2 separate regions of the Homo sapiens genome follow, and region 2 is linked to region 1. The links come from fine-mapping of genetic effects on gene expression. A gene starts in region 1. The other region holds a variant in brackets. All regions are shown on one strand. Distances are between the middles of the regions. Region 1 holds the start of IFT27 (intraflagellar transport 27). Region 2 overlaps CACNG2 (calcium voltage-gated channel auxiliary subunit gamma 2).

The links. PIP is the estimated chance that this variant, and not a neighbour inherited with it, causes the effect.
Region 2: its variant is fine-mapped to the expression of IFT27 in fibroblasts (GTEx, PIP above 0.99).

Annotation. Positions count from the first base shown.
Region 1 is chr22:36,770,981-36,780,361 of GRCh38, reverse strand. It overlaps IFT27 (intraflagellar transport 27), which reads left to right and starts at 4,243. Exons shown (of 7, transcript NM_001177701.3): 1 at 4,243-4,688. The coding sequence starts at 4,655. RefSeq lists enhancers at 2,851-3,414, 3,942-4,201, 3,980-4,543 and silencers at 4,442-4,491, 4,622-4,681.
Region 2 is chr22:36,676,835-36,684,834 of GRCh38, reverse strand. The region is part of intron 1 of CACNG2 (calcium voltage-gated channel auxiliary subunit gamma 2); the gene reads left to right. Among named protein-coding and RNA genes, the nearest start is that of CACNG2, 23 kb to the left of the region's middle. RefSeq lists an enhancer at 1-18. The variant T/C (reference allele first, on the strand shown) is at 4,776.

The sequences.
Region 1 (9,381 bases):
GGACGTGTGTAGGTTTTGTGCAAATATTACAACATTTTATATAGGGGACTTGAGTAGCCCTGGATTTTGATATCCATGGTTACCAATCCCCCACGGATACAGAGGGACAGACTGTGTAATCTCTGGTAGTAGTGAACGCTATGAAGAAAGTAAAGTAAGTCAAGGATATTGAGACTGACAGATTGGGGGCGATGCTTAAATTGTGTGTTTGGGAGGGCTCCCCGAAGGCATGACGTTTGAGCTGAGATCTGAAGATCATGAAGGAGAGTCATACAGCCTCATTGGGAACAGTGCGTACAAAGGCCCTGCGGTGGGAACGTTCCCGAGGAGCTTGAAAAACAGTAAAATGACCCAATAGAGTAGATAAAGGTGGGTCCTGGCATTAGCTAAGAAAAGCAGTTCTCAACATGAGCTTGTGTCGGAGTCACCAGGAGGCCTTATGGAAGCAGATTGTGGGCTCCACCTCCAGTGTTCAGCTGGTCAGGGGTGGGGCCTGGGAAAATGCATTTCTTACTAATCCCCAGGTGATGCTGGTGTGCCAGTCCAGGGATCAGAGCATAGGGTATTTGTTCTTTCTGCACCACATCCTCCCCTATTCAACATTGACTACATGCAATCATAGATCATTACTGCTTGATCATCTGCCGCTCCACTGGGCTAGATGGTTCTGTCCACCTCTACGTCCTAGTGCTTAGCAAGCACTCAACAGAATATTTGTTGAATTAATTCCTCAAACAAGGGTTCTACTCTGGGTCTTGCCATTCCACCGTGTGTTCCATCTGCTGCCCTCCCAGAGCTCTGAGCCTTTGCATGTGCTGACCCATCCACCCAGCATTTGCCTTCCCCTGTGTCCACCTCGCAAATTCCTACAAGGCTCTCCTTTCAGAATATCCTTCCCGACTCCCTCTCCATCCACCCAGGGTTAGGAATGCTCCTCGAGGTGTACATAGGGAGTCCCATATCCACCTGTGGCACAGTGACTTGTCCACATGTTGGTCTTCCTTTCTTTACCAAAGATCGTAGATGAGCAGCCCCCAGGTTGAACCGGTCAACAGAGGTTTCTACTGCAGCTACAGTGTTTTAAATTTAAGTTCATTGCCAACACTAACAGGTCAGGGGATTTCACACAAAAATCCAGATTCCTGGCTCCTCTAGAAAAGTGTGCAACCCTGGGCCCGTATTCCCACATTGCCGTGATATCTCACCCAGAGGTAAAGCCTGGGGCTCTGTCATCCCCACCCTTCAGTGGATCCAGCAACCAACACCATGCCTGGCTGATGGTAGGCACTCAAGAAAAGCTAATTAATGAAAATGGAGAGACTATGCTGGATAATGGGGGAAAACAAAGAAACAAACATTGGTCCCCAGAGTCAAGAGATCTGAGGCTGGTTCTGGATCTGGCTGACTTGTTGCATGACCTTGGCCTCTCTGTGGCTCTTTCCTTTCTTCAAATGAATGAGAGTTTCCACTTCCCAGGGTCATGGTTTCATACAGGAGAGAGGATGTGAAGTGCTTAGCAGATGCCTCACATCTAATGCTCAATCAACGCAAGTTATTACGGCAAGGAACTCAATAAGTATTTGCTCTTTAGGAAGGGTGAGAAGGAGTTCAAATCCATCTCTGCTACTCACTAGCTAGGTGACCTTCGGTGTTTCACTTAATCTCATTTGGGCCCTAGTTTCCCCATCTATCAAATGGGGATGATACATGGTTATTGTGAATATCAAATGTAAATGTGAAATTAAACTAATTAATCCCTAAAATCACTTAGAACAAGGCCAGCCTTAAGTCTGTGGTCAACATAGGCCAGCTGTGACTATTAGAGCTGCTCAGAAATGGGATAACTCGAATTGCTCAGGAGCCCCCATGGCTCCAAAATTCTCTGACCACCTTAAACCTAGTGACTCTCATTCAGCTTACCTTCAGTCACAGAAATGTATAGAAGGCCCTTGGGTCCATGAGGTGAAGGGGGACAGAATTCACCATACAAGTGTTTACCATCTCTCTAGAAAGTTCTACAATGCTCTTATGATAATGCTGACTAAAATCACACAGAGTAGCAGCAACAAAAGGGAGACAGTGGGTGGGGAACAGAGAACAGCCCTGGGAGGGAGGTGTGATTATTACCTGCAAGAGTTAAAGAAAGAGGCAAGAAACATGAAAAGTGGCTCAACAGTTAAATACAGGTTTATTTTGGAGCATAAACCTGAGAGGGGCTTCTGGCCAATTTCAGTCAGGAGTGCTCTCTCTTACAGACTAAGAGTATTTAAGGGTTTAGGGCAAGAGAGCTTACCACAGGCTTGGAATGTTTCTGTGTGGAGGAGAAGTTTACTGTGGGGTTGGAATGTCTCCGGTCTGAGGGTGGGTTATGTTGGGGCTGACATCTCTCTGACCAGAGGGGAGGTTATCTTGGGGCTGCATGTCTCTGGTCGGGGGGTGGGTTTATCTTAGGGTTGGAATGTTTCTGATTGGAGATGTCACTTGTGGTTTATGGTCATTCTGACATTAGCCATTAGGCTGATGCCCTTTGGGTTGAATTTAGGCCGTTTTTGATCAAGGAGAACTTTAAAATGGCAGTGCTTGTCCAAGATGGCTATGCTCCGGCTCTGTCATTACCCACCTCGCAAAATGAAGGAACCAAGGCTTCGGAGGCTGCCCTGATGTGTGTCTGTGTCTTAGCTACGTGGAGCTGCCTCGGGAGGGTGACTCACCAAATGGGGTCCTTTAAGGGATTAACAGGGTCACTCATGGTGAACAGGTTGGCCTGGAGGGGAGCCGGCAAGAGGAAGGCAGAAGACCAGAAAGAGGCTTTTTGCTCACTCAGACCTGGATGTCTGAGACAGACTCACGTGATGTCACCAAAGAAGAAAAGCAGTTACGAGAAATGAAGGAGAAACAGACCTTTACCGTAGCGCCAGGAATGAATCCCAAGGAAAGAACATCTCAGACAACTTGCATTTACTCTGGATTCGGGGCTGAAACCATCAGCCATTCATAGAGTGTGTGTGTTTATTCCCCCACACAAGGCTGGCAGCCACTCTGAGATGCAGAGTGGCGGAGAGGTGGAATGTTCTAGGTGTCTGGAGGGAATGTGGAACTTTCGCACAGGCACCTTTGCTGAGGGGCTGCTCTTCCCTTCAGCATCAGCCATCAGAATCCCAGGGGCCCTGAGAAAGTGAGAACAAGGGGTACATTCGGCCAACCAGTGACAGTGATGATAAACCAAATCTGTCCAGATAAGCTTCCGCTCTCCCATCCACCCCACAATCACGTGTGCACCTACTATCTCCCAGGCACTCATACGTTTCTCTCCTTCCATCTCCACAACCACCCCACAAGGCGGGTTCTCCTAGGCCCATCCTGAGGCTGAGGGATGAGGTGACTTGTCCAGGCCAGGGATTTAGGTCTCTGACCCCCTAACCACGTGCAAGAGGCACCCCCAACCCAGTAAACGCGTACAGAGAGCCTCCCTGGGTGACGGGCAAACGAGGTTAGTGATGCATTCTCCTTTTGCAGAGAGTAAATGGACTAAGAGCAAAGTACGACTTCAAGTTTCCGAGTCTCACCGCTTAGCCCCATCAAAGTGTATTTGTTCTCCCTTTGTTCACAAACATCACTTTAATAAAACACCTTCATATTTTAGATTTTAACGCTCATTACATCTTTGAGCTTTTAAAATGAGATTTCCCTGCGGGATGCGGGGCAAGGACTGCACTTCTCCATGCACTTTAATAGCCGCGCTGTGCAGAACCCGGGAACCGGGGAAGCCGCGAGAACCGCGCGAAGTCAGAGCAAGTCAAAACGACCTCTACAGCGGCGGCCTGGCCCACTGCGCAGGCGCCGCTCCAGACCGCCTAGAGCCCAACCTGCCCCATTGTAGGCGAACCCACTTCTAGAAGGACAGCGGGAGTGGCGAATCCCTATTCCTCCCGAAGATGGGTCAAGCCAGACTCTGACCAATCAGAAAGCTTCTCTTGTCACCGCTTCTGACTGCTTGACGTGGAGGCTTCTTTATCTCGGGACTCTCAGGCGCAGCGGGGGCGGGATATAAAGCTGGTTGACGTCAATTACAACCACTCGTCAAGCAGACTGAACTTGAAGAACTGATAACTCTACGAATTGCATCTCAAGAAAAGGCTGTTATCCCAGCTCTCTACTCCCATTGGATTTTTGTGAGACCTTGAGGGTGGGAGCTTTTGGCGGCAACCAATCGAGGGTCAGCGAGGAGGAGGAGGAGGCGGGGCAGGTGGGCTATGGTTGCTTGGAGAGTGCATCCGGCCCGGTACTTGTGATCGGAGGAGAGCCGGATCGTCCTTCCTTGAACCCTCTGGGTAGGGCTGTGCTGAGGGGCTGGGCGGGGAGCACAGGCCGTGTCCGCTCGCTTGCACCTTTTCAGACTGCCGTGTCAGGCCTCGAGCCGGGCCCACCTGGAGCCCTCCCCTGCCCACCCGCCCCCAGCGCCCGATATCCGCCCCCGGCCCAGAAGGGCCGGGCTCGGTCATCCCCAGTCCCGTCGCGGCCACTGACCCTTGAGATCAGCCCTCCCCTCCCCACCTTCCCGTCCCAGGCCAGCCCAGGGCCCGAAGCCCACCCACTCGCGTCTCTAGCAGCCGCTCTTGTCCTCTGGGTACGGCTCGCGGGAGTGTTGGTTACCATGGTGAAGCTGGCAGCCAAATGCATCCTGGCAGGTGAGTCTGAAAACTTGCGCTTGAATACGGTGGTCTCTGGAGTCCAGAGCCTTCATAATTCATCCAGAGCTTTTGTTCACCTAAATTGCCTACCTTTTCCTTTCTCTCTCCCAAAGGCGAGTTACTGCAATTACTGATACAGTAAATTACGTTAGGCGTGGAAGAATGATCTTCCAGGGCACTTCGCAGCTCCAGTGGATTTCCCCCTGCTCCCTGTCACATACTCTGAGACCACCTTCACCAGTTGAGGTGACTCGTTAAAAAATCACTAGTTACAACTCTGGAGAAGCAGACTTGTTAAAACAAAACAAAACAAACAAAGCTTAAGCAAACCTTGAGTGCTTCAGCTAAACATATACTGTACCCCAAAGTTAGGCATCAGTGACTTTGGTAGTCTTTACTATGGGATTTTTCCCCCGACCTCACCCCCTCTGATAACGGTGACCTGAGTGTAGTGACCAGAGTTTGCAAAAGGCACTTGTGTGTTGTCTTTAAGACCCAAAGTTACTGTGCTGCCCCACTCCAAGAAGGGCATAAATGTTGAGTCTCCCAAAGGCAGGAATCTTTGTTTTGTTGACTGATACATCCCAAGCACCCAGAACAATGCCTGGAACATAGTAGGTACTCAATAAATACTTTTAGAATGGATGAATATGTGAATATGTGGCATGCACATTTGTAGTGTACCCCTTGTATCAGTCTGCACATTTAGAAAAACAATATTTTGGATTATAGACTGCGAAACACATATGCATGTTACTGAGTGCTTACTGCATGTGAAGCACACATATTTCATGTAATCGTCTCACCATAGCACACTGGGCTAGGTACTGGATTGTTTTTCTTTTTTTTTTTTTTTTTTGAGACGGAGTCTCACGCTGTTGCCCAGGCTGGAGGGCAGTGGCGCAATCTCGGCTCACTGCAACCTCCACCTCCCTGGTTCAAGCAATTCCCCTGCCTCAGCCTCCCAAGTAGCTGGGATTACAGGCGCAAGCCACCATGCCCGGCTAATTTTTTTTTGTATTTTTAATAGAGCTGGGGTTTCACCATGTTGGCCAGACTGGTCTCGAACTCCTGACTTCAGGTGATCCACCCACCTCGGCCTCCCAAAGTGCTGGGATTACAGGCATGAGCCACTGCGCCCGGCCAGGTACTGGATTGTTCTGATCTTACTGAGGCACTGAGAGATGTCAGCCAAGGTCAACCCCTAGTGAAGGCCCTATGCAGGATTTCAGCCCCTAGATCTGGCCAACTCCAAAACTCTTAACTCGTGTTTCTGTTGAAACCTGTGACCTTTCCAGGCTTCCCTGGCCAGCTCAGGAAAGAAGTGGTGAGAAATTATATAGAGAAAAAGAGATTCCTGTTTTAAAAAATTCCCCTCTTCCAGACTGAGAATAAATGATAATATTTTTAATGGCTTTTATAATTTGAAAATAAAAGGGTCACACAGAAAGATGACTGACAGTAGTAACTGAATCATACTGGAGCAAAATAAATTAATGGTTCTCAGGAGAATCTCCAGTTTCCAGAGCACCAGAGGAGGCAGTGTTGTGTAACAAAAGTAATTTTGCCTGTTCCTCTTATTGGCTGTGTCATCTTGGACGAAGCACTTTTTGAGCTTTAATTTCCTTATGGATAAGGTGGGAACATTATTTTCTGAAGTTACTTTTTTTTTTAAATGGGCTTCTCTCTGGGTTCTTTTTAAATTCGGTTTTCATCATGGAGCTAACTTACTGGCGCTTTGGGTGCATCAGCTCTGCTAGACCCTCAATACAGGTGGTCTCATTGAATCCTCATAGCAACCCTGTGGGATTGGCATTATTGCCATCCTCATTTACAGATGAGGCAACTGAGGCCCAGAAAAATGAGAACATTTGCCATGGGTCACAGAGCTGGAAGTGGCAGAGCTGTATGATCCAGACCCTGGGTCCCAATCTGATTTCCAGGGCTTTAGCCCAAGCTACTCTGTCCTCAAGTAGTGCTCCTCTGTGTCCTTCTATTTTTTTTTTTTTTTTTTTTGAGACGGAGTTTCACTCTCATTGCCTAAGCTGGAGTGCAATGGCACAATCTCAGCTCACTGCAACCTCCACCTCCTGGGTTCAAGCGATTCTTCTGCCTCAGCCTCCCAAGTAGCTGGGATTACAGGCGCCCACCACCATACCCAGCTAATTTTTTGTATTTTTTAGTGGAGACTGGGTTTCACCATGTTAGCCAGGCTGGTCTTGAACTCCTGACGTCAGGTGATCTGCCCGCCTCGGCCTCCCAAAGTGCTGGGATTACAGGCGTGAGTCACTGTGCCCGGACCTTTTTTTTTGAGGCGTAATTTCACTCTGTCTCCCAGGCTGGAGTGCAGTGGTGCACAACCTTAGCTCACTGCAACTTCCACCTCCTGGGTTTAAATGATTCCCTGCCTCAGCCTCCCGAGCAGCCGGGGATACAGGCACACACCACCATGCCCAGTTAATTTTTGTATTTTTAGTAGAGATGGGGTTTCACCAGTTGGTCAGGCTGGTCTTGAACTCCAGACCTCAAGTGATCCACCTGCCTCAGCCTCCCAAAGTGCTGGGATTACAGGCGTGAGCCACCCACTATGCCCGGCCTCTTTGTGCCCTTCTTTACCCCCAACTCCCTTGGGTAGTTCTTTCACCTGAGTGCAGCCACTGCCTAGTTAGTGGCTCCTGAACTCCAGCCTGCGCCTCAATCTGCAGCCTCTTTTCAGGGATTCCACAGCATTTCCTCTTGGAAGTTTCCAGGGACCAAAAGACCTCAGCCCAGAAATCAGCCCCCTCTGACACCTGTCCACCCACCCCCACCACACACATGCCATTGGTTTTATTTTTCCATCCATGACCCACAGCCCTACTGTTTAAACTGAGTTACTCTGTTTTTTCTCTCACATAACTGGTCATTGAAGGACCTGACGTTCAGTTCAAGTGTTTATGCATTGAACAGATACTCGCTGAGCACCTACTACGTCAGAGTCACCGTGCAAGGTGCAGTGGGCCTGCAAGCATGAGTCAGTTGCACTCAAGGAAGAACTAAGATGCGTGTGATACGTTCTAACACAGCGAACACAAAGTGAATGCCCTTTGTGTGCCAGATGCGGGGAAATGCCTCCAGGCACAGCTGCTACTTGTTCTGGTTCTGGAGAAGAAAGAAAACAACATTTGACATTGATCTGTATTTTGTTTACTTTTAAAAAAACACTTAAATAGTACTTATATATGCCAGGCACTGTGCATATTAACTCATTAAATCCTCATAACAATTCTGTGGGGTAGGTGCTATGATTATCTTAGGTTATACATGTTGCAGCTGAGGCACAGAGAGGTTAAGTAACTGATTTAAACTCACACAGCTAGAAAGTGATGGAGCTGGAGTCTGGCTCCAGAGTCTGTGCCCTTAAGTACCATAATATGCTGCCTCTTGATATACATGGAGATGGTAATAGAGCCTCCTGGGAGGGTTGCTCTGACATCACATCGTGCGCTACCACTGAGCAACGATCCACGTTAGCCACACAGATAAAGATGAAGGAGGGAGAGATGGCCTTCAGAGGCTGTGCAGGAAGGGTATTCTTTGAGCTTTCCTTGCAGAGAATGGACAGGATTTGAATTTGGTCTAGGGGTACCTGGAAGGAGGTGGCCTTGAGGAATTTCCAGGGACTGGGCGAACAGGAATGCAGAGCCCAGATTTGGGGTAAGGGATTACTAGGGAGAGAGTGGGAAGGTGGGTTAGGGCTGACCGTGGAGATGGGTAGGCTATGAAGGAATCCTCAGTGGGGTTTGTGTGAAGGTTTGCCAAGATGGAGGCACTGTGTCATGGGGGTCCACCTGTTGATGCCACCCACTGGGTGGATAACAGCCGGGAGAAAAAAGAAGAGAAAAGAAGTGTTCAAGGCACAGTCGGGAAGACAGAAAACGCAGTCGTCATTTCAGCAGAGAAATTTTAATGTATGGAATTGCTTCATCAAGTGTTGGAGAACTGAGGAAGCAAGAAGGCAGCATTGAGTTGACACAGATTGGCGGGCAGAGGTCGGGGTTGTCAGAAGCTTGAAGAGACCCAGGGAGCTGGGATCCGGACCCCTGAGGAAGGGGCCCTGCCCGGCTGGTCCCGGCACCTCAGGAGTTCAGTCACCTGCCGCGTGACCCCAGCACATGCCACAGAGCACCAGGACCCATTTCCCACTGGGAGGAGCCCAGCCCTGTGTTCAGGGCAAGACACACCAAACCAGTTCCAAACCATCCTGGAGGGTCCATGTTTTAAGACCACTCCTGGTACCAAGGACTACATAAGTCAGGGGCCAGGCAAAAACCAGCAACTCTACTCGGCATTTCAACAGTGAGGATTTCAGTAGGATGTGAATGACACTGGTGCTAGAGGACTGGAAGAGGAAAAGGGGGAAACTGAGGCAGCACGGGTAGTAACTGCAGGAAGGAGCACCACCTCTTGGGCTGGGGAAGCAGAGGGAAGCATGTGGGGCTCTCAGCCCAGAAGCAGGGAGGAGGGGCCCTGGGAGCCAAGGTGTGGATCTCTGAGAAGAGGGCACTGCCCGCTGGCGCTGTTTCCTCTGGGGGCAACAATAAGCTGGTCTGGGAGTAGGGAAACACACACACACACACACACCCCAAGACAGGAAGCAGTTAGTGCTGCTGGGGTGCAGGCCATTGCTAGGGTAGTACTAAGAAAAAGG
Region 2 (8,000 bases), 95 kb after region 1:
GCTTCATCTCTCTGAACCACTGTTTCCTGTCCACCACATGCACACACAAAAACGGAAATAAATATGCTTCTCAAGCAGTGTGTTATAAAAATTAAAATAAAATCTGTATAAAGGAGTTGCATACTGAGTGAAGGCTCAAAACACAGTGCTGTTGTTTTAAATCAGGACTGTTATTAATCAAACACATATCTTTTTTTACTTTGTTTTTTTTTTTTTTTTGAGACAAGGTCTCGCTCTGTTGCCCAGACTGGAGGGCAGTGGCACAATCTTGGCTCACTGCAGCCTTGACCTACTGGGCTCAAGTGATCCTCCTACCTGAGCCTCCTGAGGAGCTGAGACTACAGGGGTGCACCATCACACCGGCTCATTTTTTTGAATTTTTGTAGAGATGGGGTTTCGCCATGCTGCCCAGGCTGGTCTCAAACTCCTGAGCTCAAGGGATCCACCCACCTCGGCCTCCCAAAGTTCTGGGATTACAGGTGTGAGCCACTGCACCCAGCCTCAAACATGTATCTTTAAATCGATCCCCTGTTTAAATCGAGCCTCATCCTAAGCAATAGTACCCAAGAAATCACTGGTTCAATTCACTAGTTATATTTTTAACATGCCTTCAAAATACTTAGCTTAAAGCTATTTAAATGTTCATCCCTATACCACCTAAATTCATCTCAGGTACCACAATGGCCCACCATTCACTTTGCAAAAGCGTTGTTCCTACTGATAAACCATCCACGGGGTTTGAAAGACATGGAGAGACGGGTGGCTCTTCAGCCCCATTACTCATCAGCTTTTTTCTTTAGGTGATAAAAGAGACACTGACATAGAAAGTGAAAAGAAGGTCAGAGGCCAATTCACAGAAGTCGCCTGGACTGTAAGGGCCTTTCTGAGGCGTCGGGAGCACTCGGTTCTTAGTTACAATTTGACCCATTCCTCCATCTAGAAAGGATGGTGGTGTGGACGACAGCCAGGGGTCGCGGGGGGTGGAGAGAGAGAGAGATGCTGCCTCCCTTGTTGACACACTGATTTGTACTGAAGGATTTTCCCTTTGGTTTCCTCCAGGGTGTTCAGGAGATGCCCCCTCCCAAGACACCATCAGAACAAGAGGAATTAGCTCTCCCTGTCAACCAGCAGGGAAGGAATTTCTTTCTCCACCCTAGAGCCTTCCAAGCATAGAAGGATTTACCTCTGGTAGGAAGAGGTGTTTTCTTGGAAGAAGCTGTAAGATTTCTCCATAATGATCATACCTGAGTGGGGGAGGAAAGGCAGTTTTGTCATAACAGGAATGACTGTCTCCCATAACAATAATGACAAAAAGGATTTGGGGTATTTAGGAAGGGCTGGGATAATATGACTCACAAGCCTAAGAGAGATAGTGTAGGATTTTAGGAACCCAGGTGCTGGGTCAGAGAGAATGCAGGCATTTCCTTCCTGACTCTTAGTCCTGACTCAATCTCTTAGATCCAAGGGCTTCATCCACCATCATCTATAAAGCAAAGGCTAATCCTGAAGTATTGGACTTTGACCCGAGGGTGTTTATTTCAGAGATCCAGCACTGTCTTGTTAGACCCTAAACTGCTGAGAAGAGACATAGCTACTTCTTATACAGTTGAATGAATTAACACATAATTATGGATATAAACTAATTTCAGAGTATTAATGTGGGGGCCTGGAAATAAATCACAGAATATCTTGTCTATACAGCAATGAGATGCCAGGAAAGAAAGACAGGATGCTGCAAAGGAAGCGCTGAGAGCAAATGCACTTACCCTTTGGAGGGCCCGGAGCGATCATGAGCTAGTTGGCTGTAAGAGCCCCCTTTGGGATGGCAGGCATGGGGGAAGTAAGCGTTCTCGCAATGAAGCTGATGGGATTTTAATAGCCAGACAGATGGCCTGAGAGAAAAAAAAAGGAAGATTTTTTTTAAATGAAGGAAAACACTTCCATAGCTTCCCTTCAATTAAAAGAAAGTGAGAGCCGTCCATGCCGGGAAGATTTGTCACCATTATTAATATTGTCAGTCTGGATTTCCTTTAAATAACTGTATGATTGAGCATCAGTAATAAACCAGGGCAGCATCTTCAAACAAATTAGAGGGTGTGACTCTCTACTGACTTTCTATTCAATTTTGATTGTGTTGGCTTCATTTGGTCTCACAATTTAATAATGATCCCAAATAATTGTGTTGTTATTATTCTTGTTTATGCAGTCAAACGTTTATCACTTATTGGATTCTTTAGTGTCCATCCTCCTAAGAACTTCAGGTTCTATACAAGTCACCATTGAGTAGCCAGCATATCTAAATTTGAATCAAGAAACCTGGGAAGAAGTCGGGAGTGGGGTGGGGGGAGGGGAATACAAGATAAAAAGGAAATGTTTGAAAAGAAGGAGAGGATGGAGAGGAAAGGAAGGGAAGAAAAACACTACCTATTGAGCACCCTCCTGTATACCAAAGGTTTTATTTTATCCCCACAACCACCATGCAAAATCTGTTTTAGGCTTCTCTTCCTCATTCTGCAGAGGAGGAAACGGAGGTGCTGAGAGATTAAGCGATTTGCCAGAGTCCCACAGCTAACAGGGGCAGAGGTGGGAGTCGGGTTTGGGACTCCGTCTCTTCACTGGCTTCACTCCTGCAAGGGCCTTCAAGCCCTGCGTCTTCTCCCCCAAGTCTCAGCCAAGCTGTGGGAACCCTCCCAAGCTTAGAAATGAGCTGTCTCGTAGCATTCCTGCAGTGTGTAAAGGAGCAGAAATTCACATAGGAATTCTGCCTCTTGGTCTGCTGTTACACTTCCCTAGTTCAATTCTCAGAGTCTCCTGACGGCTGAGCACCATGAAGATGGGCTGATGGTAGAGGGAGAGTTGGTCCCTGAGAGCATGCAGACTTGGCATCCTTTGGCCATACCAGAAATGGACCCAATAGAGAGTGGGGGGAGTAATTATCTACAGGAAACATACACATGCCATGCCTCCAGCTACCATGGGCTGGATCCTCTGGGATCTACTGTATAGTCCTTATTTTTTCATTCAGTTCCCACAACCACCCTGTATGGCAGGGTGGTGGTACAGATGAGAGAACTGAAGCCAAAAGAAGTCAAGTGATTTCTTTTTCAGGTTGGTCATTGGTGGTGCAGGGATTTAAACCCTAGTCCAGCCAATGGATTCCAAACACAAATGGTCAACTTTACTTCAGCACCAGTGTGATGAGTTTTGACAAGAGACAAAAGGAAAGGGTGGGAGAAGTTAGAAATGTAACCCAAAAATATATTTGGAATAAAAGTGGCTGCCCCCCAAAAAATGGATTTAATTCTGTTCCTGCCCAAAGGCTGATGCTCAAATTTAATTCAGTAAGCATTTACAGGATGTCAACAATGTGCAGATCATTATGCTAAAGAGCCAGGTGCTGACAAAGATTCAAATTCCCTGTCTTCTTCCTTTTTAAAAACTTTCGACTCTGAATAAAAAGATGTGCCCCTTTTCCCACAAAGAGAAAAAATCATGTAGTTGCTCTTCCTTATGCTATCACCAGGTAGGAAAAGTCCAGTCTCTGCGAGGGCTTGGAAGCATTCTCTATATTCTAAGGTGCTGCATCAGTTACTTTTAGGCCCTAAGCACTAAACCAACAGAAAGAAGGTGGAGGGATGAAGACAAACTAAAAGGGAAGAGCCATGGAAATACAACCAACAAGCAAAAGAAAATGATCCATCGATTAATAGGCAGAGAGATGAACAGATAGATGATAGATAGATCTTTAGCTTCTAACTTACTCGTGAAAAAGATACAAATTCTTAGAATAATAAAAAAAGAATAATTTTTCTGTTTTTCATTCTCATTCTTTTTAATGGATAAATGTATAAATAAAGAAGTTGACAGGAAAAGAAAAGAATCTGAGACATAAAGGCCAGAATCAGAGTTTTTCAGATGTGCTGCTGGTGGTGGTGATGATGGTGATGGTGGTGGTGGTGATAGTGATGGTGATGGTGGTGGTAGTAATTGTAACCATGATGCAGGTGGCAGTAATCATGAAGGTGGTGGTGATTGATGGTGACAATAACGGTTGTGATAAAGATGGTGGTGATGAAAGTGGTGGTAGTGGTGGTGGTGATGGTGATGGTAGTGGTGATGGTGATGGTGGTAGTGGTGATGGTGGTGGTGGTGGCAGTGATCATGAAGATGGTGGTGATGGTGGTGATAATGATGGTGGTGTTAGTGGTGGTGATGGTGGTAGTAATTATAGCCATGATGCAGGTGGTGGTGATCATGAAGGTGGTGCTGATGGTGGTGGTAGTAATTGTAACCATGATGCAGGTGGCAGTGATCATGAAGGTGGTGATGATTGATGGTGGTAATAATGACTGTGATAAAGATGGTGGTGATGAAAGTGGTGATGGTGATGGTGGTGATGGTGGTGGTGGTGATGATGGTGATGATGGTGGTAGTGATGGTGGCAGTGATGGTGGTGGTAATGGTGATGATGGTGATGATGGTGGTAGTGATGATGGTGATGGCGGTGGTAATTATAGCCATGATGCAGGTGGCAGTGATCATGAAGGTGGTGGTGATGGTGGTGATGGTGGTGGTGTTGATGATGGTGATGGTGGTGGTGATGATGGTGGTGGTAGTGGTGGTGACAGTGATGGTGGTGGTAGTGATGGTGGTGGTAATGGTGGTGACGGTGATGGTGGTGGTAGTGATGGTGGTGATGGTGGTGGTAATTATAGCCATGATGCAGGTGGCAGTGATCCTGAAGGTGGCGGTGATGGTGGTGATAATGATGGTGG[T/C]GGTAGTGATGCTGATGGTGGTGGTAGTAATTATAGCCATGGTGCAGGTGGTGGTGATCATGAAGGTGGTGGTGATGGTGATGATAATGATTGTGATGCAGGTGGTGATGATGAAGGTGGTGGCAGCAGAGATGGTGCTTGTGATGATAACAGGGATTGTTATCATCCGAATAACTACCATTTGGAACAACTCTTCACGGTGTCCAAAACCTTTAACGTGTATTACTTCATTTTAGAAGAAAAATTCTGAATTTTTCAAAACAACAACTATTTCTAACCAAGTTCCACCGTGAGTGTCACCAAAACTCAGCCAAGTTAAGAGAACAGGGAGAGCTGGAGTGGGCTCTTTCTCCATCACACGTAAGTGGGCAGTGACCTAGGGAGGAACAGTTACAAAAACGAGAGCAAGGCTACAAAAGCTCTCTCCAGTCTTCCCTCAACCAATCGCCTCCAAGTCTATTCACCCAAATCAGTCCCCAACGTTGATAGAACTTAATACCCTTTCACCTGAAAACTGTTTAGTAGATTTCATATGCATAACTGATTGTAATCTGGTTCCTAGTGGATAAATAAAAATCATTTGTGATCATTGAAACGTATTTATTTTTTAATTAGGTAGCAGCCATGAATGAAGAGCCCTCAGAGAGCCATCTCCTATAACCTCTCCAGGAGCCCTACTGACATAGAAAGGGCAGCATTCAGTGGCCGGTACATTTGCTCCTGCCCATGTTTTCTTATAAAGGACTTTAACCCCTGACTGACAGCCCTACCACACTTCACCGGAACTCATCACATGTCCTTTTTTAAAGAAAAGAAAGAAAGAAAGAAGGAAAGAAAGAAAGAAAGAAAGAAAGAAAGAAAGGAAGGAAGGAAGGAAGGAAGGAAGGAAGGAAGGAAGGAAGGAAGGAAGGAAGGAAGGAAGGGAGAAAATCCAAAATGCTGGCAGATAAGCTGCCAACAAAATGATTTCTTTAAAGAATAAACTAATAACTGAGTATCAGTTAAGGCACAGCCAGCTGTGACGTTTCCTCTGGCCATGCCAGGGGCTGCAGTAACTACCTACTCAGTGCTGTGCTGCGAGCATTGATTGGGAGCATTGGCTGTGTCAGAGGGCTTGACATTCCAGCAATGACACAAACCACGTGTCCTTGGGAAGACGGTGTGCGATGAGATGGATGAGCCAAGTAGGGTTTGAGAAGTGGGAAAATTAGGTCAAATCCCTGTGAATGTACCCAGGGAAAGAAGAGGCTGCTGCCGAAGGGAAGCTGTGTCCTTGGTGTTTTTAGAGAAGGGGGTGGTGTCCTAGGTGCAAGAAGAGAAGGTAACCATGGTGGCTCCTGGCCATCGTGGGGAAATGGAGGGGGAACAGGTGTGAGTGACTGGCATGGGGGTGGAAATGAGGTCATATCCGTAGTGTGGGAGCTGTAGGGGGAATGTTATCGCATGTGCTGGGGGAAGGATGGAGGCAAATTGGGTCACGTCTTTGTGGAAATGATGAGAGAATTGGGTCAGAACTGTGGGGGAGAAGGCTTGAGAATTGGGTCGAGTCTTTGGTTAGAAGGGGGAACTGGGTCAAATGTGAATGTGTGTAGAGAGAGGGTAGTAGAAGGTAATAGAGAGAGTGGGCTGATCCCTAAGGTCAGAGAGGAAGGGGAATGGGGAAGCTGCTTTGATTCACCCTGGGGTTAAAAATTGAGCTACTAGGTTCTGGCCATTTCCTCCTAATTCCATTGACTTGCTGTCTCCCCTTGTAACATTAGACTGAAAATAGGCTTTCCTCCTCCTACCCCAAATTGTGTGACATAAATTTCAGCCAGGACGGGGTGTCATTCATTCTTCAGCACTTTGCAAACCAACACAAATTGGCGTTTGGGAAGATAACCATTCCATCATTTTACGTGGCCTCATTTTACCTAGAATGCCAGGCTGGTGAGCAGCTGCCCTCCCTTGGGGTTTCAGCATACCACCAGATTCAATACCAATTCTCTCTCCTTTGCGACCATTGGCATCTCTGCAACACTTGAAGCCTCAAAATACATTTTGTAAATAAAAGCTGAGTAATAAGTTCATTTTAGCAGCTTCCAAGCTGGCTTTGTTGAAATCTTTGCAATCATGGGGCAGTCAAACCACAACAATACTCAAAATTATACTTAAAAAGAATGTACTTTTATTAATCAGCTGAACTCCTATTGGCTACTTGGTTGAATAGAACTATCTTCAAAGAGCAAAACTGGAATGTGCAATTCACAACCTTGTCTGCTGTGACACTCTATGGAGAAATATATTAAACCATGGAACTTCATTTGGTTGAACGGCACCACAGGCTCAACACATGCCAGTGTATATTTCTCTGGTAATTTCAGCTTCATTTATGCCCACGTGGGTTAAGGAGGGTTTCTGTTGAAGCATACACTCGTGACCTGCTATCTCCTTTGGGGACCTAGGCATGGAGTTATAATGAATCTGATCCGATAAGGCCACAATGGGTTAAATCTGCATTCTCCCAAAAATTCCTTTTTATCGGCATGAATCACTGTGATTAATGAGATAAGCTTGTAATAGGCTTCTGTAGCATATGGACCTCTCTGACCCACCCCAGAGGAAGACACACCCATCCAGGCAGTGCAGTGGTGGGGAAACCGCATCCTTTCCCGTGGACCCGAGAAAGCTTAAGGCTTCTTAGAGAAGAATAGAGATGGACACACACCAATGCTTCCTATTCCTTAGGTGATATTTGGTGGTATTTTGGAATGATGGGGATAAATATACTTTCAGATCAAATAATTTGGCCCTGGTTTTTCTTGACTCTCAGAATCTTTGAATGCAGAAGGATCTTGCAGATTCTGAAAGCCTTCTTCAGGAAATGAAGAGAGAGGGGGACAAAAAGGGAGTCGTTCCCTCTGCAATTCAAATCAAACCTTCATTTTCTTCAGCAGAGTTATTTTAAGTCATTCATTATTATTTTTCTTCTGAAGCAGGGGCTGTTTGATACTGTAAGATTGTTAGAACCAGAGAAGAGTAGAGGTGACACCGAAGTATTATTCTTGCTGCAATTTCAGATGAATTTGCTGCTGACAAAAGATTTTTAAAACACACACACACACACACACACACACACACACACACAATATTAGAAGAAGCAGAAAGAGAGGCAAGCTCCATCAGGCAGCTCAGGGAAATTAGGTCCCTACCATTTTTCCAGGGCATTCGCTGAGGCTGATCCAG